Linked DNA regions of Homo sapiens: region 2 is linked to region 1. The links come from fine-mapping of genetic effects on gene expression. A gene starts in region 1. The other region holds a variant in brackets. All regions are shown on one strand. Distances are from middle to middle.

Region 1 (11,582 bases):
CAATTGCTGGGGCATTTTAAGTTATGTATCCACCCTCCTTGAGACTCCACCTGGCCCCCAGCCTTTCTCTGGTGGCAGAAGAGACTCCTGAGTTAAGAGCTGTAGTTCTGTGAGCACACCTGAGAACATGCTCTGCCTTGTCATCTCCAGGGTCCCATGGTCCCACGGCAGCTGCCAGATCCCTTCCACTCAGCCAGTAACAGGAGGCAATGTCTCTCTTTAGTAGAGTTATGTGCTTTTTGCCACCTAACCTGGCCCTAGGGAGACAAGGTAGGGCCAGGCAAGGGTTTCCCTCAAGGGCCCTCAGGGAGAGATGACATAAAGTCGGGGATGGGGGTGTGGCAATGCACCAGGAGGAGGAGCTGACTGTTGTTTGTGGGAGGTAGCCATCTGTTCTGGGCTGTGTCTGTCCTGTTGCCTGCTGGAGAGGCCAGCAATGAGTCCTGGGCCAGCCCAGATCTCACCTGTGTGTTGAATACTAAACAAGGAGACAAGTAAAATAAGTCCAGCATGAGTCAGATGCTAGGTCTGGCTTGGGGAAGCATGCCCTCAGTGCCATAAACACCTAGAGGACAATGGGAGCAGAGGATCAGAGCTTCTGCCTGCCTGTACAGCACCTTTGTGCAAAGTAGGAAGAAGTCTCACTCTTGGTGGATAACTTTCTAAAAGGGCACACCTTCCTCTAGGCTAAGGCAGCCCCATGCCGCAGGGTCTAATCTGTTCAATCATATACCCAACCATCAGTGACATATGAGTGGGCTTCTGCAGCATTCAGGGGAATTTGTCAGAGATAGGGAGGCCAAGATCCAAGTGGAGGAAGCCAGACTAGCAGAGTTTGTGGAAGAACTGCAATGGGGGATGAGTCTTCAAGGTCTTGTGCCTGAGCAATGTGGGTTGTGGGAGAGGATTCTGGAGAAGGTTTTATTTGGATGGTAGAGGATCCCTCCATTTAGCTGCTGAGTCAAGAGGAAGAGAGTGGAGTCCAGGAGGGTAGTAGGAGGTCGTTATGATGTTATGGATAAGAATAGATGTGGTCCAAGGATGGCTTGAGTCATGGCTGGGCTCCAGTAAGGAGAAGAGATAAGCCCCCACCCCTGGCCTCTGCCTTAGGAGAAGTGGGGCTGGCCCTGGTGGGGCGAGACAAAGTTGCCCGTCTAAAGAATGGTTTGGCATGCTCCTGGCTATAGATGCCTAGGGCAAGCATAGACTTGCACACTTTGGCTTAGTTCAGGCCTGTGAGATCCTCCCCTTACCCCACTCTGGGCTCCCATTAGGACAGAGAACTGACTTGAGGTCTAGGGCCACCCCAGGGGTTTGGAGATTGCAGTTATGAATTGGGACAGATGGTAGAGCTCCAGGCAGAACAGGTGGCTCTGTGGCCAGCTGGGGACATGCCTCACAAAGAAAGCCTGAATTTGTACAAGGTGCACCAGCATGGAGCAGGATTTTGCCCGCAGCACCTTCTCACAGCTCTCCAGCCTATATGGTAAGAACATACTGACACCAGGGGGCAGCAGAACCCAGTCATTATGCTCTCCAGCTATTGTTCTGTCCCTTGTGGTTATAAGGATTCATGGGTTGACCTTCAGAAGGCTGAATTTGGCTCAGCTACAGCCCCAGATGGGACTCAGGACTGTCCCATACATGGGGTGAGTGATCATGAGGCTCTGGCTTGTTTATAAAAATGGGCAAAAGTTACAGGCTTTTGTATAACAGAAGCTACACTGTGTATCCAGCCAGCACTGGGCACATAGTAGGCACTCAAATACTCATTAAGTACTAGGTGTGTGTGGAGGGGTGTTTTTATGGGATTAACTATTGCAAACAGGCTGACTTGGCTGTTGTTTCACTGAGCACCTACCATGTGTCAAGCACCCTGTCTATGATTCTCCAAACTTTCCTTCCATCCTCCCACAACACTGTGTTGTGTTCTCCCCATTGCCTAGGTGAGGCCCTGAGACTCAGCGAGGTTCAGTGGTGAAGCAACTTGTAAGAGCTGTGAGTCAGGCCACATTCTCAGACTTTCAGTCCAGGAAGGGACCACCAGGCATGATCAGCCAGCCATGTTAGCTAAAATTATAATAACTTGTATTAGGCTTTCCTTAAAGGGGATCCAGGATTCTGACATGCAGAAAGGGAGTAGGAAAAGAAAAGGCATTCCAGGCCAAGGGACCTGTGTGAGGGAAGATTGGCAATAGGACTGAATGAAGTTGAAGGACCAATTCTGCTGGGCCAGTGAGGTTGCCAGAGGTGGGCTCTGCAGGCCTAGGATAACAGGCCAAACAGCATTGGCTTTATTCTGTGCAGCGGTTATGTCAAGGAGGTGTGGGTAGAACTGGGCATGTGGATGACCAAGGTGACACTATTCCTGTGCTCCAGAAGCCTCCTCCACAAGTCCATGGTCTCCTTGAGGGCAGGGCCAGGTGTCTCATGTCTATGTCCCCAACCCAGAGTTGGGCACACAGGGTACATAAGAGTTTATTGCATAAACTAAAGAATTCCCTGAGCGTAATTTATTTTAATAATGTGTTTTATAAGCTGTTTCCTTACCACAAGTCAATCAGTAAACAACAGATTTTGAGTGTGCTCCTGCTAGGATGCTAGGCTCTGTGCCCAGGTGGGGGATGATGCCAATATGTTAGAAGCAGTAGGGAAAAGCAGGTGTAAACTCCTTGCAGGCAGGGCCAGGTTACCCTTCACTGGAGAACCCTGTGTGCTGAGAACCAGTGCAGCCTGGAATAGAAGGAGGTGCTCCAGAAGTGTTTGTTGAATGAATGAATGAATCAACTAGTGAACCCACAGCTTCTGGGTGACCAGTTTTGTGGAAGAGAGTCTTCTCTGAGGGCTGCTGCTTCCTTAGAGCTCCAAGGTTCCAGTCACCTGACAGATTGGGAGCTTGGGCCACTCTGCCAAGCATAGATGAGAGGAATTCCCAGTCAAGGTCCTCACCTCACTGGATGGTCTGGTGTGATGCTCCCATTCCTTGCGTTGGCCTCGCCAGAGTTCCCACTAACCATCCACTGGGTCCACAGATTGGTGGGGTTAGGGGAGTGCTGTGGATGAGATGCTGCTTTGAGCCCTTGGGGTTGTCCTTCAGGATGCCCAGGGGTGGTTCCTCATCATTTGCTCGGCTGCCTCGGGAGATCCGTGGTAGGTGTGGTTATTCCTGGGCCTACTTCCTTTGTGTAGCTCCTAATTCATGTGAATCTTGGGGCCTGGGACAGGCAGAAATGGGAAGATGGGAAGTGGATTGGAACAGAAATTTCAAGCCAAGCCGAGCTATCTATTCTGAGACCCAACCAATACTCTCAGAGCCAGAAGGATTTCAAATCCCAAGAAGTCTCACCTGACCCTATTTGCCAGCTCTTCCCAGAGATACCCTTCCTCTCCCTGCACCTAAGCCAGGCATGTAGTAGGGGCGTCTGGGGGAGTTGGGAATGGCTTCTGATTTGCCATCTGCCCATTTAAGCTTGTGTTCCGAGATCACTGTCTCCTGGGAATTTAGAGCAGGAAGCCAGGCCAGTGAGGGAACAATCAGCATCTTAGTGCTCAGCCCCTGGTATAAGCAAATGTGGGCTGGCACCTGTTAGGGCCAGGAACAGACTTAGTAATTGATAGCTATTGGAGAAATGAGTGAGTAGGTAGGCCCAGGTTGACTGGGCAGCTCTGGGACAGACCCTATTGACCAGTGCCTGGGACCCCGCCTCACTCTCAGCACAGCCTGGCCCACCAGTGCAGGATGTGGATTCCAAGGGACTGATCAAGACTCAGCTCTGCTACAAAGCTCTGCTTTTCCCTCCAACTCATGGACTGTTGTAGGGGCTGAGACTCCCCCGTGGGACTCCTCCTGCCCACGCACCCCTGTCCCAGCCTTAGCTTTGCTGCAGACCATTCTAGATACTGACTGCAGATCCTGCCTCATAAACAGGCAGAAATGTCACTGGGAGAGACAGTGAGGTCAACTAGATATTGGATAGAAAGGGCAGCTAGAGGCTACACAGCAAGGACAGTTAGAGCTGGGACAGAGATCAGCAAGGTGGCATGTGAGCCGGCCAGTGAGATTGGACAGGGAGGTTGGCTGGAGTAAGGCCTTAAGGCCTTTAGGCCAGTGAGAGGAAGACAATTGTCAGTATGGAGAAAGTAGACTCAGTGGAGACCCATCCAGGCCTGCAGTGACCCCTCTGCTTTGGAAGGGAAGCTCTGGCCACTCTGCCCTGCCACTAGAGCTGATGCTGCATGAAGCCACATAGACCCCAGGACCCTGCTTAGTGGCTGGAGAACTTCAGTGTTCATCGTGACTGTGCTTTCCAGCAGATGGGCTGGATGTGATTCTCTGAGGACACCTTCAACTCACGCATTTTTTTTTCTTTTTTCTTTTTTTTGAGACAGAGCTTTGTTGTTGTTGCCCAGGCTGGAGTGCAATGGCGTGATCTTGGCTCACTGCAACCTCTGCCTCCTGGGTTCAAGTGATTCTCCTGCCTCAGCCTCCCATGTAGCTGGGATTACAGGTGCCTGCCACCACACCCGGCTAATTTTTTTGTATTTTTGGTAGAGACGGGGTTTCACCACATTGGCCAGGCTGTTCTCAAACTCCTGACCTCAGGTGATCTAGGTGATCCACCCATCTCAGCCTCCCAAAGTGCTGGGATTACAGGTGTGAGCCACCATGCCCAGCCAACTCATGCATATTCTGTAGGCCAACTCCCCTAAGCCTAGGTCTGTCTGTGGTGGCAGGGAGGGTTTAGAGAGAAATGGAGGTTGGGCCTTCCCCCATCCAGTAGGCTGGTAGGGGATTTGGGTGCATGTGTCCCCGATCTCCTTGCCACAGACCAGATATGGAAGGCTATGACCTGTGGAACCAACTTTTCTAGGTCATTCTGAAGTGTCCTGTCTCCTCTGTCTCCTGCTTCTGCTCCCTGGACAGTTCCATGACCTCTCACAGAGACATGCCTGGCACCTTGGCTTCATGAAGATACTGTGTGGCCCAAACGAATACCAGTTTCCTTTAGCCCCAGAGGCTGACAAGACATATCTCCCTTGGATTTCAGGAGATCTGTGGAGCATCCACCAACCCACCTGTTGGTTCAAAATCAACTCCAAAGTGGTTTTGTCCTAGATGTCCTCTCAGGCTCAACGGCCACATGTGTGCTTGAGATCTTGCTGTGCTATTTCTCCTGGTAGTGGGAGTCTGAGTGGCATCCATGCTCCACAGGGCACAAGGTCTGTGCTGTGGTTAATAGGCAGCTCCTGGTGACCATGGGGTGTCAGAGAAGCAGTGTTCTGGCTGCTGAAAGTCAGCCAAAAAAAAAAAAAAAGGATAGAAGCCTGACCTTGGCATGGAGCCTTGGTTGAAGAAGGAGCCCCAGCCCTGGAAGCTAGTGATCCCGCACATGGGGCTCTGGGCTGCCCTTATCCCCACCTCCCACTCGAGGGCACTTGTGGCAGCAGGAGTGTGGGCACCAGGCAGAGGACACACGTGCCCTCCATTATTGAAAGTCCTCTCTGTGCACTGCAGGGTCTTCTTGTGTACCAGCACTTTTTTCTTCCCATTTCTTTCTCCATGTTTACCATCAACACTGTGAGAATAACTGAAGTTTCCTTATCCAAAAAAAGGGTGCTACTCCAGATTCCGCCACTACTGTTTTCGAAAAGCACAAAACCAACAGAGCCTCAGAGGGGGCTGACCCTCTTTCTGGATCCCACCTCCATCCCCCCGAACTTACGTAGTGCTTTCCTCAGCAGCCACCGAGGCCTCCAGTTCCGTCTCCAAAGATGATGGGTTCCTTCCAGTGGGTGCAAAGTGAGAGCCCCAGTGATTGGTGTTCATAGTGGGTCAGTGTGAACAACGCCCAATGGCCTGCCTGGGCCAGCTGGGGCCTCGTTTTGCTTTGGTCTGAAAGACATTTTTGTTTTCTGGTGAGAACAGCCCCAGCCTGGCCAGGAGCCGGCCAGCGGCAGGAATACAAACCCTTTCATGTGACAGACCCAAGTGGAGTGATGCCCTCCTGCCAGCAGCAGGCCCTCCCCTGCCGCTCCTGGGAGGCGGCCATTTGCATATTTCCCATTCATCCTGGCCTTGAAAAGGAGGCCTGAGTTCCCAGTGCTCCTGCCCGCTGAGGGCTGGGCCGCTCCAGTCTAATGTTAACTCTGTGGACACTGTAGGCTCTCACAGGCCAACAGCAGAACTTGACCGCTTGCTGCCGGAGGGAGAGCAGCTTAAGGCTGCAGCTGCTGTGCCGCCTGACCTCCAGAGGGGGGATTCAGGAGGTGGCAGATTCCCGTTGACCAGCACAGCCTTTTGCTAAACTGGAGGAAATTCAGATTTGTTTCTTCTTGAGGCATTCAGAAGAGGAATTTTGTCAGACTATGGGGATGCCAGAATATTCAGCTATTTACCAAATTTGCCAGAAAATGTGCCCTTAACCAAGGGCAAAACTCTTTTTGTCTTGCTCACTTTCTAGTCTACAAAAAAATTCAGTGACTCTGGAATGGTAGGTGAAGGAGCCATGCCGGATCCTGGCTGCAGCAGCAATCCCTTTGCCAAGGATGTAGGAGCACAGCTTGCCTGGGGCACTTTTGCATCCCCAGGGCTGAGTGCCATTAGCTTGTGGGCTGTGACTCTGAAGGCATGAGGCAGATATACAGTACCCATCACCATCTTTTTCCTTTCTCCCATAGCTAAGTGCCATCCTGCCAGCCTCAGCTTCCTGCCCCAGTCCTCAGTGCAGACAGGCCTCTGCCTCCTTCCCGCCACTGTGTGAGGGCTCCTGCCAGGGGCCCCAACATCTTACAGGCTCTTCCTGTGACTTACCAACCCACTTCTGTCCCTCTTCGATAGCCCTGTTCTCTACCCTTTCCCACCCAGCTCGGATCCTCTCCTTGTTCTCCCTCCCTGGCTAAGGATGTCTCAGGTTCTGTCTTTTGTGCATTTCTCCCCTAGCACGTGTCCCCAGGAGACCAGCAGGGCTCCTAAGTGAACAAGCAGGCAAGCAAATCCCTCTGTTGCTCCCCCCACCTCAGTGACCCCCAACCATATATTGGCAGGACCCTCCCTACTTCAAGGAGCTTCCCTCTAGCTGGAGGAGGTCGCATCCCATCCTGCTTGTACCCCAGCCACCTGCAGTTGAGCTCTGAGTGCATGGCCTCGCCATGAGCAGCCCATATGCCCTTTACTGGTTCAAGCTTAGTTTGCAGTGTGTCCTAAGTTTGAGCCAGTGGCAGAAATGAATCATTGCTCCTGAGGCCGGGACACCAGCAGTCCTAACGTGGACATGGCCGGAAAGGCAAAGGATCGTGTTACAGCCACAGGATTTGGCTTCCTGCACAGGAGGGCCTGGCCAGGGAGTGTCCCTGTGCCTGTGAGGTGATGGTGACCCTGGTCAGTATTCCTAGGGTCCTGCCTGCTGTCCCAGGGCTTGGCGTGGAAGGATCTGAACTCGTCCACACCATCAGTCCTGGTTATCATACCCTGTAAATATTTCCAAAGGGACTACTGCTGTTTTTTTAGCCCCTGCTGTCCCTCTTTGCTCTGAGAACTTTGTCCTGCCTAATTCATGGTGAGGGCAACGTTTATCTCAGAGCGTGTGAAAGACACTGTGTATCTGTTTGCTCCTCTGTTCTCAAGGCTATTCATATTTTAAAGTTCCTGAAAGCATTGTTTGTGCCTGGCTTCCTGGTGCTAGCATCAGGAATGTGGACCCACATTCCCTGAGCAGGGCTTAGGGTGAGTGAGATTTTTGAGAGGTACTGTCATGAGGATGGGGAGGCCAGCGGGCAGTGGAGGCTGCTAAAGGGAGGCATGCTCACAGTGAGCTTGGGCTAGTTGCAACAGGTGGCTCTGTAAAGTACTCAGTCACAGCCAGCCTTAGCTGGGCCTTTCTACATTCAAGGGGCTTAATTGAACCATCAGAGCTATGATCAGGCTCCTTGGGGAAGCTTGGCAGGTGAGCCACCATGTAACCTGGCAACCCCGTATCGTATCCTGGGCCTCTATCTCATGGGGGATGTACAGTGGGTCCCACCTGGCAATTCCCAAGTCAGGGAGGCTCTTTGCTCCATTTCTGCCCTGGTCTTATGTGGTTCTGTGAATCTAATTAAAACCCAAGAGGAAAATGGAGAGCAAACCCTTCTCTCACAGCAGAGAGAAGCTTGAATCCCTGTGTGGAGAGGGCAGGTGTTGGGCAAGTGTGCGCTGCTGTGTTTGCACCTCTGCAGGTCAGGGTTGTACATGTGTGATGGTGAAGGCTGTGCATTTCTCAACCTGGCAACTGGGCTGCACACTGCTTGGGGTGAAACTACTCCCTCAGCTCTATGCCTCTGGCACTCTGTGGGATTTCCCACAGACCACTGGATTTCCTGCCCCAGAGGCTGCCTTGAGAAGCATTAAAGGAAGCTTTCATATTAAAAGCATCTCTGAAGATATTTGGAGAAAAGTAAGGGTCCTGCCTAGAAGAAAGGTGAAGTGACTTTGTGGGCTGATCGGGGGTGCTCAGATATTCGTTCATTTTAATCGGGGTGGGTTGGGGGAAGCTAGGGCCAAGTTCCAGATGAGGGTCGCTGAGGCAGGACGCTCTTCTCATGGCTCACCCAGATGGTAGGGTGAGTAGTGGAAGCTGTTATCTGCTCCAGGGAAGGTGTTGCAAGCCTGTGGGCTCTAGACTTGCCAGGCAATTGGGCAAACAGCTTTCAAGAGGGAGCTCAGAGCACTGGGTCCTGTCCTGGGACATTCTTGCAGCAAGGGAGCAGGGTTAAATTTGGGTGGACAGTGGCCCAGTGCAGGCAGACTCGTAATTGCCCAGAAGCACCTGATGTGGGTAGGGCCTGGGGGTGGTAGTAAGCTGGCTCCTGTGGCCTAGACTTGTCTTTTACTTATTAGCAGGTGCCACCATGAGTCTAGCTGTCTACCTTATGATCAGAATGAGTGTCCAATTCAAAATACGCAGTGATCATACTTGTGTGCTCAGCCACATGTTAGCCATGGAAATAGTAGTGAAAATGCTATGGAAGTAGCCACCCACACCCCTAAGCCTCACAGATCTTGCAGTAGTGAGACCCCCGAGAGCCCCTGGGACCTCAGTCTCTCAGTCTGGCAGAGGTGCTGCAGGACTTCAGAGCTCAGCTTCGGTCCTAATAGGCAAGGGTGTGGGTTCTGGCTCCAGGGTGACCATTCCCATGCAAACTAGGCAACAGTATCTCTTAGTGCAGGCATGAGAGCAGGGCTGGTGTGCTGCCCTGGGGTCTTGTGGTGGAGATCAGCCACTATCTTCCACCTGCTGGCTCTGATCCTTGGTCCAGAGTGTCCTCACTCCCCAGAGCATCCCTAAGCAGATGTTTTATCTGGAACTGTGCCATTTCTTTCCTCTTCCCAAGTAGATTGGCTGTGACCTTGTGGGGGTGGGGAGCAGAGGCAGCCCCTGGGAGAGGCTGGAGGCAGAATCTCCCGGGTAGATGGTACAGTCGCCCTCAGTGCCAGAGAGCTAGCATCCCCATCCCCTACTCCCCACTACTTCCTGTCACCCCCCACCCCCTACACACATAAACTCATGCTCACTGCAGTCCCAAGCCCACAGCAAAGGCCTGGCCCTAATCATTGTCTCAAATGGATGTGTAAGGAGACTTTGTTCTTAAGAAACCCACTTGGCAAACTCCCTTTCAGAACTGCAAACAGGGTGGGGTGAGGGGAAAAGCAGGGGGGTGTAAGCTGAGGCTCTGGCACGCTGGCAGGGTGAGGGTTAAGGCTGGGTTGCTTGGCTCTGAGCTGATCTGAGCCAGCACCGCCCTGCATGCAGATGGAGGTGGGGCTGGCGGGGGCCTTGAGGGGCCAGCAACTCCTTACAGAACTGCTGTGTGCCCTGTTCCCTGCCAGACCTGCTCCCACAGCCACCAGGGAGCCTGTGCTACCACTGCTAACGGCTCTACCACCACCCGGCTTCTCAGAGCAGGCGGCTGTTGCCATCGACTGTCCCCAGGAGGGCAGACTCGGGGCAGGGCCTTCGCCACTTTTGTGCTTTGATCAAGATGTGGTAACTTCTTTCCCTGGGCCCCACAGGCCCTATAAAGGGAGGCTGGTTCTAGTGGGACGAGCTCAGCCGCCTCCTCAGTGCCAGGAGCCTGCTGGAAAGGTAGGGTGTGAATGCATCTACTTGTGCAAGTTGTCTTTGAGCCCCTTTGGCTTGCAAAGAGATGGAGTAACTGCTTCAGCTACTTGCTATCTACTAAGTGTTTCCCTTACTACATGCCTGGCACTGCACTCTCTGTCCATGAGCTTGTTTGAGATGAGGCCCAGAGGGGCAAAGTGACCTGCCCAAGGCCACACAGCTATCAAGAGACTGAGTCATGATTTGGACCCAGGTCAGTTCAGCACCGGAATACCCAGAATACCCACTTTGGGTCCTCTCCCAAGCTCGTTTGCTAGGGTCCCTGGGCCCTGGGAGAGGTTGTAGTTTTCTTTTCAGAGCTCTTCACTTGGAGTTGAGGAGATTCTTTGATGATTTGGTGGCTGGGCTTGAGCTTCCCCACCCGTTTTGAAGACCTCAGAAGTTTGCAGAGGCCCAGAACTCCATCATATGAACCCCTATTAGAGAGGCTGATACAGAGGAAGCTGGAGTGATTCAAAGGGGAGGGAAGAATCCGAGGATCATGGAGAGCCTCAGTGTGAGCATTAGTTTGGACTCTGGTCCTAAGGCAATAGGAAGCCAGATAAGGTTTCTGAGCAGTGGCATGACATGATCCTATCTACATATCAGGAAATAACTTTGGTAACAGGGCAAGCACCTGTTAGAGCAAGGAGACCTATGGAGAGGGTGGTATGGGAGTCTGGGCTGTGGTTGGTGGTGGCTGTCAGGCCTGGGGCCGTTGGGGTAGAGAGGAGTGGTCGGGTATCCAGCTAGACAATGAAGCCTAGAGTATTGAGGTTAGGAGGCTGGACCAGCAGAGAGTTCTTGGAGCCATGTCAGGGTCCCCAGGGCCAGTTCCACAGTGACTGTGCTCTGGGGCTTTGCTTCTGCCACCCCACCACATTGGAGCCAACATATTTCCCACCAGGGCCCCTTTCTTCCTGTTCTCTCCCATGCTGGATTGCCCTAAATCAGCAGAGGCCATGCTGAGGTGGGAGGAAGTTCCAGTTTCCTTAGCCTTAGCTACCACTTGGTATTCTGAACTGGTCTGTGCTGGAGAAAAAGATGTCGGATATTCCAGGAAGAGAGGAGGAGGTGGCTAGTTCATGTTAGGTGGCTTGTTCATGCCTGAGTCCTCCTGCCAGGTGAATATTTACAAACACAGTCACTCACCTGGCAACACCAGCACCACTGATTCCCTTGAGTGCTGTCCACACTCCTCTTGCCCCCGACACACACACAATGCACATCTCTGCTGCAGCCAAGAGAGTCTCTTGGGGTATGGAAGGAGGCAGTATGGCTGGGACCCTAGAGACCACCAAGCCCTACCCCAGGTCAAAAGAGAGGTGTGGAGGTCAGAGGAGGCCAAGGCCCTGTGAAATAATGAGATGAGACCAGACTCCAAGGCCTAGGCTCTGCCCTCCCCATGTCAAAGGCTTGGTGGCTTGGGCTGGCTCTGAGGCCCAT
Region 2 (11,582 bases), 220 kb before region 1:
GCCTTGTTCATACAATGGATTTGGGGAGAAGGGATGTGAATCTCTATAACATGCTGTGATGTGTGGCTGTTAAAGATGGTTGTGGATTCATTAAGTGACACACACTGGGTGTACTCAATGAGGTCTGCTAGAGGCCACAATAGTGGGAATGTCCACTCATTCATTCATGTATTTTTGTTCACCAATTCCTCTCTAGGCTCTGGGCGCCAGACCCTATGCTAGAGCTGGAGACACAGTGATGAACAGGTTAGAGGCAGTCCCCAGGAGGGCCAAATGGTAAATGAAGTAGACATTGAATGAGGTCAGGTAGCATGTGTGAAACTCATCCATGAGGAGCTTTGGGGCCTATGGCAGGATCTGGCTCAGGCTAGACCCAGAAAGCCTTTTGAAAGAAACCACCTTTTGGGAAGAGAATGTTCTAGGCAGGAGGAATAACACATTCAAAGGCCAGGGAACTGAAAAGTGCCTGGAGTGGCTGCAGCATCAAGTTTGAGGCTGTGCATAAGAAGAGAGACCATCAGGGCTGGATAAAAGGGATTGGCAGCATTGGCAAGATTTGTGTCTACCCTTGGGTCCATGGAATACCTTTGAGAGGTTCTATACGGAAATAACATGATGGGAATCACATGGTTACAATGTCACTCTGCCCTGTGTAATGGAGTAAGGATAGAGGGAGCGGAGTAGAAAAGTGGGCTAAGATGGATTGTCCAAGTGAGAGATGGTGGTGTCCTGAATTTGGTCTGCGACAGCAGGGTTGGGAAGAAGTAAGTGAACTGAGAGAGATCCACCAGGTAAGATCTCCAGGGTGGGCATGCAGTGGGAAAGAAAAGGGAAGTGACTGGGAGATGGTGATATTTGCTGAGATGTAGGAAATGCTGGGGCAGAAGCAGTTTGGGTGGTGTGGGCTGTGGTATGGGGGAGATGTTTCATCCTGGCTGAACCTGCAGCTGGAGATGCCCCAAAAGCAGTGGCAGGGGGGTCCCCATACGGGACTACCCCAAACCATCCTGAAATGGTTGGGATTCCAAAGAAAGTAGCACTAAATGCCAGGGTGATCAGTCCAAAGCATTTATTAGGGAAATTTCTCGGTCTCTGAGGGGGCTGCAGTACATCCTGTAGGCAGACAGCGAGACAGGGATGTTCTATCTAGGTATGCCTGCTGCAAGGGGGGTCTGGGTATGGAATTTATATGAGATTTTAAGGAATTTGGCTCAGGGTCGGGGCTAGTTTCTTTCAGTGTTTCGGGCGACCATCTAAACACCTTTATCAGTGCCTGGGAATGTTTAAGGCCCCAGCTTGGGCTCAAGCCTACAGGAAAAAACCTTCGGCTGTCTGGGTCATAGAGTGGTCAAGGCATTTGGTATTTGTCAGGAGAGAGAAAAAAGTGAGGGAACCTGGGGGACCCTACATGAGACAATGAGTTCACTTATCAAGTGGTCATAAAGAAAAGGCTGTGACGATGTGGGTCTGGAGTGGACCCAGGCTGGAGATTCAAAACTGAGTGATAGATTTACATGGGTCCAGAAGCCTTTGAGGGCATGGAGGAATGTCAAATGTAGTGGATTAAATGGTGCCCCCCAACCCCACCAAATTGCATTCATGTCCTACTACCTGGATCCTGTGAATGTGACCTTATTTGGAAAAATGGACCTTACAGATATTATTAAGTTACAGGTTATTAAGGGAGCTGTTGCAGTGGTTCCAGGGCCTGCAAGAGTCATCAGCATTCAGGGAGGCTTCAGTGCCAAACCTCCCTGGATTACCTGGGTAGACCTCCCAATCTGCCCTGGATTACCTGGGTAGACGCTACAGCCAATGACAGTTATTTTTATAAGAAACAGAAGGGCAGAAGATGCAGACACCGAGGAGAAGTGCAGGTGAAGATGGGGCAGAGATTCGTGTGATACAGCCACAAGCCAAGGAACTCCTAAGCCACCAGGAGCTGGAAGAGGCAAGGAGGGGTTCGCCCCTAGAGCCTTCAGAGGGAGCACACCCCGGTAACATTTTGATTTTGGACTTCTGGCCTCCAGAACTGTGAGAGAATAAAATTCTGTTGACTTAAGGCACCTAGTTCGTGGTAATTTGTTGTGGCAACCCCAGGAAATGAATAGATCAGGAGCCCAGATGGAGTCTGAGGGCCTTATGTTAAGGGCTGAGTGGTGAAAGTGAGGCTACAAAGGCAGAGGTCAGAAATGGTATCTTCTGGGTGGAGGCAGGTAGAGGAAAAGGAATATAAAAACAAATGAATGGCCACTTCCTGCAAGGCAGGAAGACCAAGGAGACATGATCCTCAGAAGTCCTGCCCCTTCTCAAGGCTGCAGATTTTTTAGGAGGATATCTGACCAATGCTGTGGTCCTGAGCTGCCAGGACTCCAAGACCCTGCGGAGGTCTTACTCATGCCTTTGGAGACTAAATCTTACAGTGTGGAGCAAGGTATTGAGGAGATATCCGTCCATTCAAGGAGTTAGCAAATATTGAGCCCAGTTCGGTGGTGGGAAAATGGCAATGGACAAATGCATGCATGGTTTATGTACTCCCAGACCTCCCAGGCCAGTCGGGGAAGACGTTACCCAAGCGATCATTCAATTCTATCAACGGTGGCAAGTGTTACGAAGCACACGGGGACATGAGAAGCTGTTATGGGAGGTTTTGTGTGTGTGGTTTTTTTTTTTTTTTTTTTGAGACAGTCTTGCTCTTGTCACCCAGGCTGGAGTGCAATGGCACGATCTTGGCTTACGGCAACCTCTGCCTCCTGGGTTCAAGTGATTCTCCCACCTCAGCCTCCCTAGTAGCTGGGATTACAGACACCGCCATCATGCGTGGCTCACTGCAAGCTCTGCCTCCCGGGTTCATGCGATTCTCCTGCCTCAGCCTCCTGAATAGCTGGGACTACAGGCATGCGCCATCACACCCGGCTAATTTTTTGTATTTTTAGTAGAGACGGGGTTTCATCATGTTAGCCAGGATGGTCTTGATCTCCTGAACTCGTGATCCACCCGCCTCGGCCTCCCAAAATGCTGGGATTACAGGCGTGAGCCACCGTGCCTGGCCATGCCCAGCTAATTTTTGTATTGTTGTAGAGACGGGGTTTCACCATGTCGGCCATGCTGGTCTCGAACTCCTGACCTCAGGTGATCCGTCCGCCTCAGCCTTCCAAAGTGCTGGGATTACAGGCATGAGCCACCGTGCCTGGTCTGTTATGGGAGGTTTTGACCTACTCAGGGAAGTAAGGAAAATCTCTCTGCCTCTGAGGGAATCTGAAGGATTCTGAAGGTTTTAATCAGGGAGGGAAAAATTTTTTCTAGACAGAAGGAACAGCATGTATAAAGGTCTGGGGTGGGGAGGGGGAATGGCCAGTTAGAGAGACTGGAGGAAGTTCGATGTGGTTACAGAAGTGAGCAGAGGCCAAACCATGTGGAACCTTATAAACCACTTTTTGATGTTTCTCAAGATCAGGGCAATTTCCCAGCTGCAAGTAATGGGCTCAGATCTGCATTTTGAGATCATCATGGTTGTAGTGAAGGAGAGATGAGAGGGAACAAAAATGGAGGAGCAGCCAGTCAGGAAAGTGTTGCCATCACTCATGTGAAAAAGATGGAGAGAAGTGGGTGGATTAGAGGGAGATTTAGGGGTAAAATTGAACAGACTTGGGATATAGGTAAATAGGGTCTGGGGATGAGGGAGAGGGAGCTGCCAAGTATGACTCCCAGGCTTCTGGTTAGGTAACTGATGGGAAGTATCTCCTTCAGTACAGCAGTGAAGACAGGATGTGTGGAGGGGGAAGATGTAGGGGGAGAACAATAACTCTGTGTTGGACATGTTGCCATTGAGGTGCCTGTGGACACTCAAGTGGGGATGTACACTGAACAGTGAGTTACATGAATCTGGGGTTCAGCAGTAAGGATAAGGGTAAAGAGAGAAATTTGTGTCACCTGCGTGTAAAGAGAAGCGTGAAGTGGAAAGCCTAGACCTGAGTTTTGAGGAACCCCCAACCTTTACTAATAGGGAGAGGATGCTGAAGAAGCTTGAGCAGAGGTGGCCAGAAAGGATGAGGGGAAACCAAGGGAAATCAGTGTTCCAGAGGGGCTGTGGTCATCGCTGGGTGTCAGACACTGCTCAGGGCCCTGGCAGATGAGGTCTGAAGAACAGCCGTTGAAATTGGAGATTGGAGGCTACAGTTTATTGAGACCTGGTTTGGTGCTGTTAGGGAGCTAGAAGGCTGACTGCAGGGCCTGAAGAGTGGGAGAGACAGCTCCTTTAGGGCCTGAAGAGTGGGAGAGATGTGAGGATGGGGAGACAGCTCTTTCAAGAAATTCCGCTGCGGTTGAGAACAGAGACACTCAGTGGGGTCGAATGAGGGTTTTGTTCCCATAGTAGAGGCTTGAACACATTTACAGGCCAATGGGAAAGATCCAGTTGAGAGCGGGTAGTTGAGCCTTCAGGAGAGAAAAGGGATGTTCCATGGGGCAAACTCCTGAGAAGGGGGAGGAGATGGAAGGAAGCTTCTGTGGATGTAGCAGATGCAGGAGGGTTTGTGTAGTTTTAGCCGGGCTCGAGCCGGTGGCTGACGCAGGCAGGAACAATGGCTCACCCATGTTTTATGTGTATTTCCGTGTGCGTGCTCCTGCTTTCCCCAGGTCTGGGCCGCCTGCCTGGCCCGTGTGCCGTAGGGAATATCCACACTGGGCCTGGGCGGAGGCTGGGCATCTCCCGCTCTGGGCTTGCTCCCTGATGAGATTCTCAGACCGTGCTTCCCCTCATTCATGAGAGGAAGGTTCACAGAGCAGGCGTGGGAACCTGCCTGGCCGCCAGGGCCTCCTCCCGCTCAGGCTGAGGTTTGCTGCATCTCTGTCCTTATTCCCTTCCAGACTGGATTGGCTGAACCAGGTGTCCACTCTTTTTGGCCCATGGCATAAAGAAGGGTTTGGGCAACCCAGTGTGCCCCAGGTTGTTACCGCCCCCCCGCCTCCGCCCCCACCCAGCCTTTGATGGGCCCCCTTCTCATCAATCCATCACCCCTGCACATGCCACCAGGACTGCCTGGACCAGAGCCCGGGACTCTCTGAAACCCACTGAGAGCTCGGCCCTGGGAATGGGCCTCCCAATCTCGGTCTCCAGGGGGTGGGCCCCAGGTCCCTAGTCTTCCTCAGGGTCTTCTCCACTGTTCTGCCTCCTCTCCTGATACCCAGTTCCTAGCCGGGGTGACCCCAGCCTCCCGTAACAGCCTCCTTGTGGTGGTGCTGGGAAGAAGGGGCCCGTGTACCCGGCAGGGCCCCCCAGGCAATGGGCATGAGCGCAGGCAGGGAAATCCGTCAGCCTCCAGGGACGCTCTCCCTACAGCCCCGGCGAGGGGATCGGGTCGTGGCGACCTCTCCAGACGCCCAGGGGCTGGGCAGGAGGGCGGGCCAAGGCCCGCAGGTGGGGGCGCCAAAGCCAGGCGGGCGCGGAGTACGTGCGGTGGGCTGCGGGCGGCATGAAGGGCGCGGGCGGCCAGCTCCGGCTCCGGCTCCGGCTCCGGCTCCCGCGAGGCCGGGTAGCCTGGGCGTTCCCAGGGGTCGCAGAGGACGGCGAACCCCGGCGGAGCCACCGGAGCTGGGGACCAGGACGCAGGCAGGCGTGTGGAGCGTGAGGTGGGGACGTGGCGGCGGCTCAAGTGGGCGGAGCCCCGGCAGCGGCC[C/G]GAGGCGGAGTCGCCAAGGGAGGAGGCGCCGAGCTGACCGGGCGACGCCGCGGGAGGTTCTGGAAACGCCGGGAGCTGCGAGTGTCCAGGTGAGCGCCCCGCCCGCTCAGCCGCCAGATCAACCTTAGCGCTGGGGCGCGGGCTGGGGTCGCCAGGCGGTGCGTTCTGCCCGCGCGGGGCTGAGAGTTAGGGGCCGGGGCCGGATCCGGGGCCGGGGGTCGCGCCGCTAGCCGCCAGCAGCGCAGTCCGGGCCGCCACCCTGCACCCTCCGCCCTGTTTCTGCACCCGTCTGGGTTCTTGTGCCGCCGCCCGCAAGCCTTCCCGAGCTCAGGGTGGTGAGGTCAGCGGCGCCCTTCGTGCAGTTCCCTCGGCTGTCGGGCGGGGCTGGGAACTTGGCCGCTCTTCCCTGTCAGGCTCCCGGGAAGTGGCGGCCTGACCCCGGGCTGCCGGCTGTTGGGAGCGGGGGCGCGGCGTCCGCCTGGCCCTGAGGGGCCTCTTCATATTGGCTAAGCCCGTTCTGCACCCTCCCAAGGGCTGGGAGTCCTAGGTCTTGTCCGGGCAGGGTCCAGCTTGGAGCCCATTAGATGGGCCATTGGATCAGAAAGTCTTTTCTCCCCCAGACATCCTTGTGGAACCAGCGTTGTTTTTCCTTGGCAGCTGCGGAGACCCGTGATAATTCGTTAACTAATTCAACAAACGGGACCCTTCTGTGTGCCAGAAACCGCAAGCAGTTGCTAACCCAGTGGGACAGGCGGATTGGAAGAGCGGGAAGGTCCTGGCCCAGAGCAGTGTGGTGAGCGCTGTGCTGGAAGGGAATGCGGGCAGTGGGTACTTGGTAGAGCACTGACTGCCTCCGGCCAGAGGACTTCCCGGAGGAGGTGACCCATGAGCTGGAGTGGTCAGAGGAAGGCTGGCAAAAGGGCATCGTGGACAGAGGAACAGCCTATGTGAGTGGGAGCAGAGACCTTGGCCAATGCCATTCCTTATGGCCTTGTAGTGGAAGCAAGGTGATGGGGAAGGAACACTGTAGGGGATAGCTGTCCACGGACGCTGTCTACAAGACCCTGGAGTGAGATAACGTGCCTGGTACTGTGCCCTGCATGTGTAAGATGCCCAGTTGACCTTCGCAGCAGGAGCCTGGATCAGGGCACTTCCTGCCTCAGGTATTGCTGGACAGCCCAGGTGGGTCCCTGGCCTTTGTATTCTATTTGACTTTAAGATGGTGCAGGAGAATACAAAAAACTATCCGGGCATGGTGGCGCGCGCCTGTAGTCCCAGCTACTCGGGAGGCTAAGGCAGGAGAATCGCTTGAACCTGGGAGGCAGAGGTTGCAGTGAGCCAAGATCGTGCCACTGCACTCCAGCCTGGGAGACAGAGCGAGACTCCATCTTAAAAAAAAAATAAAAAAGAGAGATGGTGCAGGAGAGCATTGGGATCCCTCCCAAGACTGTGACTGTTGTCTTTTGCTGTAGAGTGACACCCGAGATTTGTGCTTCTTGATAATAGACTACCTGGGGCCTCACAGCCCCAGCCCTCTTGTAGGAAATCCTGTCCTAGGAGCAAGGGCTGGAGTCCGTTACGTTGTAGCTTGGGGCATTCTTAAATGTCCCAGACTTTGTGGAGATCCATTGTCCACCTAAGAATTTATAGGATGTTTTTGGGGTCTGCTGCTTGTTCTCAGCCTGTGTCTCATCTGACATTAGGTTCCATAATTTAGTCTCTGTTAAATGAACTAGGATTTCCTTTGGCTTGTACTTAAACTGCCCCTGAGGTGTCCAAGGTGCAGCCTCTCACTGTGGTTCTGGGCCTCAGCGCCCAGTCTCTCTGGTTGCTTCTCCCCACTCACAGAATGTTTGGTCTTTGAATTCTTTTCTTTTAGGGCCTCCTTGTTCTTACACAGCCGAGTGTCCACTGTGTGGCCCAGCCAATGAAGCCACGTAGCAAGGATGGAGTGAGTTGGCTGGGGGCCTCATCCCAAAGATGCTGTCATACTGGATCACCCTAGTTCTCTGAGAGCTCAGCAGGCAGACTTGGTGACAGCTTAGCTGAGGCATTGTCTGTGGCATGTGATAGGCCCTTGTATCCTGTCGAAAGCTCTGCATTGGGGTACTCTAGACAGTGCTTACTTAGTCACCGGTTTAGACTGGCCCCAGCTGATCTCAGTTCATCCCTTGAGTGCCTTCTGCCTGTTTGGCTTCTGACTGGAGCGTGCCTGGGGCTAGAATGAGGGACGAGAGAGAGGAGGTGGCCGAGGCACTATTCTTGCCTGTGGGTAGCTCGTACTCTGAGATTGCTGCTTCATATTGGCAGCTGGCCATGTGCCAGGGGAGGAGCCCGGCTGTGAGTGCTCATCAAAGGAAGAGACTACGTGGGTGCAGCTCTGAGGAATGAGTCGGTTGAGGGAATCTAGGGTCTCCTCATTTCCTAAGAAGGCCTCCCTTTTTCACTCTGCCCTCCCACATCCTTGGGAGGGTCTGAGACTGGAAGCAAGGCCTTGGCTGATGTGTGGCCACGCTGGCTGATAGTGTGCAGAGGGCTAGGAGGTGTGTCCCTGGCTCCTGGGGTCTGTCAAGAGTTTACTATTATGCAGATGGAAGTTGGCAGGAAAAGCTGTGATGCAAGTACATGCAAGCCCAGCAGAGTGCTGGAGTGAGAGTTAAACTTCGGGAAAGTTGCTCACATCTAGCAATTTGGACATTTGAAGTTCCTTAGGGTAAGACATCAGCCTGTCCTAGAGCAAAGAGGGCTGGAAGGTCCTGTGGTCTGTGGGCTTTGTGTTACGGACATGGAATGAGAGATAGAAAGACAGTTTTTTTTTTTTTTTTTTTTCCTCAGAGCAGAGGAGAATGAAAAGTCTGGATGATTTACTGGAGCCCTAGAAGAGAGTTCTTGTTCAGCTGGTGTCATTGCAGGGCAGAGGATTAAGTGTTTGGGTAGAGTGCTCTCCAGCTCAGATGGAATCTATCTGAGCCTGGTAACAGGCCAGCATCTGCTCTGGACCTTTCAGGAAGTGCTTGCTTAGAGTGTGGCCTGTTTTGTACCTGGCACTCTGAGGGCCAGGGTGTAGTGGAGATCCTCAGGCCTGGGTACTTGTAGGAGCCTGGAATGAGCAGGTCAGAGGCATATAAGTACATGAGTTCCTAGAGTATTGGTCCAATCCCCCGCCTTTTGCTAGAGAACATTGCTTGATGAGCTTTAGAGCCAGTGATTGACCAGTTCCAGGGTTATCCCCTGATGATCAATGTACTACATTATACCTGATTCCAGTCTCTCCTGAATTAAATGTTTCATTTCTTGTGGTGCTCCTGGAACATGGAGATCGCCCAATTTCTGCCTTGTTTGCATCTTCACTGTTCCCTAGTCTGGACCTTCTTTCTCACCCAGGAATCAGCTGACTTGGGCTGGGCAGCTGGCTGCCTCAGGTCCACTGATGTTTCTCTGGTGCCCTTGGTACTAATGATTGACATAAATTATGCCTAGTGCAGGGCTACCTGCCAACATCTGTCATCACATTCAGTCCTCCAACAGCCCTATGAGATATAGGTCCTAGTATTGTCTCTATTATATACATGGGGAAACTGAGGAATCCTATAACTTGTCCAAGGTCACAAAGCCGGGAAGTGGTATAGAATTGGGGTTTAACTCTTAGTATGTCTGACCCTAGGGCAGGTGTGCCTGTCCATTTGACTGTACTGCCTTGCCCTGAGCTGGACTGGCTGGTTATTTGTGAGTGCTGTCATGTCTAAGGTAGGAGTGACTGCCCATCTGAACTTAAGGGACCATGTTGCTGTTTTCTGGGTCCATGTTGCGTTCCTCCCTCTGGTGAGATCCAGCCAGGCGTGTCATGGACCTGCTTTATGAACCTTTGGTGTAACCCATGATAAAGTCCTTAACCTGGGCAGGCATGTTCTTCCTGGGCAAAGTGTGGCTTCCCTGTTTGGGAGTCCATTGCACTTTAAGGTAACAGATTATTGAGTAGGACTGGATAGCTGCAATATCTAGCAGAGTGTGTTTTGGGTTTGACTCTTGGTTCTGTCATTGATTTGCTGTCAGATGTCAGATATGTAGGAAACCTTCTCTCAGCCTCAGCTGTTTGTCATTTGTATCTATCTTATATCTGAAATGGAGGTAGTTATCTAGCTTAGAAGGTTTGGGTGAGAATTAGATAGTAGAAATGAAAGATTTTTGGAAACAAATAGTGCTTATCTCAGACTATGTTCCCAGGAAACAGCCTGAGACAGAGCTTAAGTACTTAATGCTTTATTGGAAGGTGTAATTGCAGGGCAGCCAGGGTGAGGGAAAACAAAAGTGAGGTGCAGGCCTGTGCGATGGCTCATGCCTATAATCCCAGCACTTTGGGAGGTCGAGATGGATGGATTGCCTGAGGTCAGGAGTTTAAGACCAGCTGGCCAATATGGTGAAACCCCATCTCTACTAAAAATACAAAAATTAGCTGGGCATGGTGGCACACACCTGTAGTCCAAGCTACTCAGGAGGCTGAGGCAGGAGAATCCCTTGAACCTGGGAAGTGGAGGTTGCATTGAGCCAATATTGTGCCACTGCACTCCAGCCTGGGCGACAGAGCGAGACTGTCTCAAAAAAACAAAAGAAAAAAGTGAGGTATAAAGGAGGATGGGAGGTGGTGTTTTAGCAAGCTGGCTACTCTGCACAGAGATGTACTTGGTTACCCTATGAGGGCCCTTTGGTAGCCACTGGGGAGGCCAGTCTGGTACTTCAACAGAGTCTGGAGATAGTGAGAGGAGCCAGAGATTCTGGCGTGGGCCTGGATAGTCTCCTCCACTGGGCTGAGGCAAAGTAAATACCCTGGGACCTGGGAGATGGGTGAGACCAAGAGGTTGCAAGGTGGGACGTAAGATGCATCCAATATAGTGGTATATGGATTTTATCCTCAAGTGTAGTTCCCTTTTGTGGGTTAGTCTCATCCAGACTGCCAAGTCTCTGCCAAGACTATGACTGAAAACCCAACTTGGCTTTTGCATGTCAGTTTTAACAGCCTTCTCTGCTACTTCATTGTCTAGTTACTGAAGCAAGACTTTGTGGTGGTGATGGTACCCAGGTGGGGAAGTGGAAGTCAACCACTATTCATGTACCAGACTGAGAAAGTATGTGGATAGATACAGATAAACATCTTGGCTTTATTAGGTTCTTCGTGAAGGAGAATATTTTTTCACATAAAGTAGTTGTTGAAGATACGAAACCTGGCATGGTGAGATGAGGCTAGAGAGGGCAGTAGGGCCTGGTCACACACTCAAAAGGACCCTTTGGGCTAAAGAGTTTGAACTTTATCTTGACGGCAGTAGAGAGCCAAAGGAGGGCTTTGATAAACCATGCTGGCTACTTTGTAGAGCAGAGGTGGGAGGAAGGCCAGATGACATGTGGAGAGGCCAGTGTAGTGGGGGCCAGGATGCCTGTAGGGGAAGTTAGGGGTGGCTCAGATCAGGGTGATGACTGAGGCTAAGGAGAGTAGGGTACCCCCCATACTTGCCTAGGGTGCCGTGGCAGCAGCTTATAGGCCTGAATGGACATCCATGTGCTTTGGTGGCAGGGTCTCCTGGAGCCTCTGGATCCTCTTAGGCTGAACACACAGGTCCTTTCAGCCCTGTTATCCTAGAGTTGGAGGCAGCGGGGAGCCGTGTCCAGTTAGGTTTTCCCCCTTCACAGAAGGCAGGCAGGTTCTTGTTCAGTGCCAAGCAAGACCAGTTTGTTCTCAGCAAGCTCATGTTCTGTCTCTAGGCTGTTAAATACATTGTTAAAACTCAGGCTGTTGCATTTGGGTTGCAGCTGGGAGCTTGGCAGAGATTCTGCCTGATGAGGTAAGGAGAGAAGCTAAGGACGCTGCTGGTTTGCAGCTGGAAACATCTTTTCATGGCCATTTGGCCAGAT

Direction of the effects. Alleles are on the strand shown, and positions count from the first base shown. SD is a standard deviation of normalised expression in the study named.
In carriers of allele C in region 2, the expression in hippocampus of the gene that starts at base 5,962 in region 1 tends to be higher than with G alone (small effect, 0.35 SD a copy in GTEx).

What was found. PIP is the estimated chance that this variant, and not a neighbour inherited with it, causes the effect.
Region 2: its variant is fine-mapped to the expression of ACSL6-AS1 in hippocampus (GTEx, PIP 0.98).

The regions. Positions count from the first base shown.
Region 1 is chr5:131,997,953-132,009,534 of GRCh38, reverse strand. It overlaps ACSL6-AS1 (ACSL6 antisense RNA 1), which reads right to left and starts at 5,962. Exons shown (of 2, transcript NR_183256.1): 1 at 5,724-5,962; 2 at 2,499-3,215. The region is part of intron 1 of ACSL6 (acyl-CoA synthetase long chain family member 6); the gene reads left to right. RefSeq lists a silencer at 1,446-1,565 and an enhancer at 7,186-7,781.
Region 2 is chr5:132,221,975-132,233,556 of GRCh38, reverse strand. P4HA2 (prolyl 4-hydroxylase subunit alpha 2) reads left to right here and starts at 5,704. Exons shown (of 15, transcript NM_001017974.2): 1 at 5,704-5,767. RefSeq lists silencers at 5,358-5,587, 5,728-5,987. The variant C/G (reference allele first, on the strand shown) is at 5,679.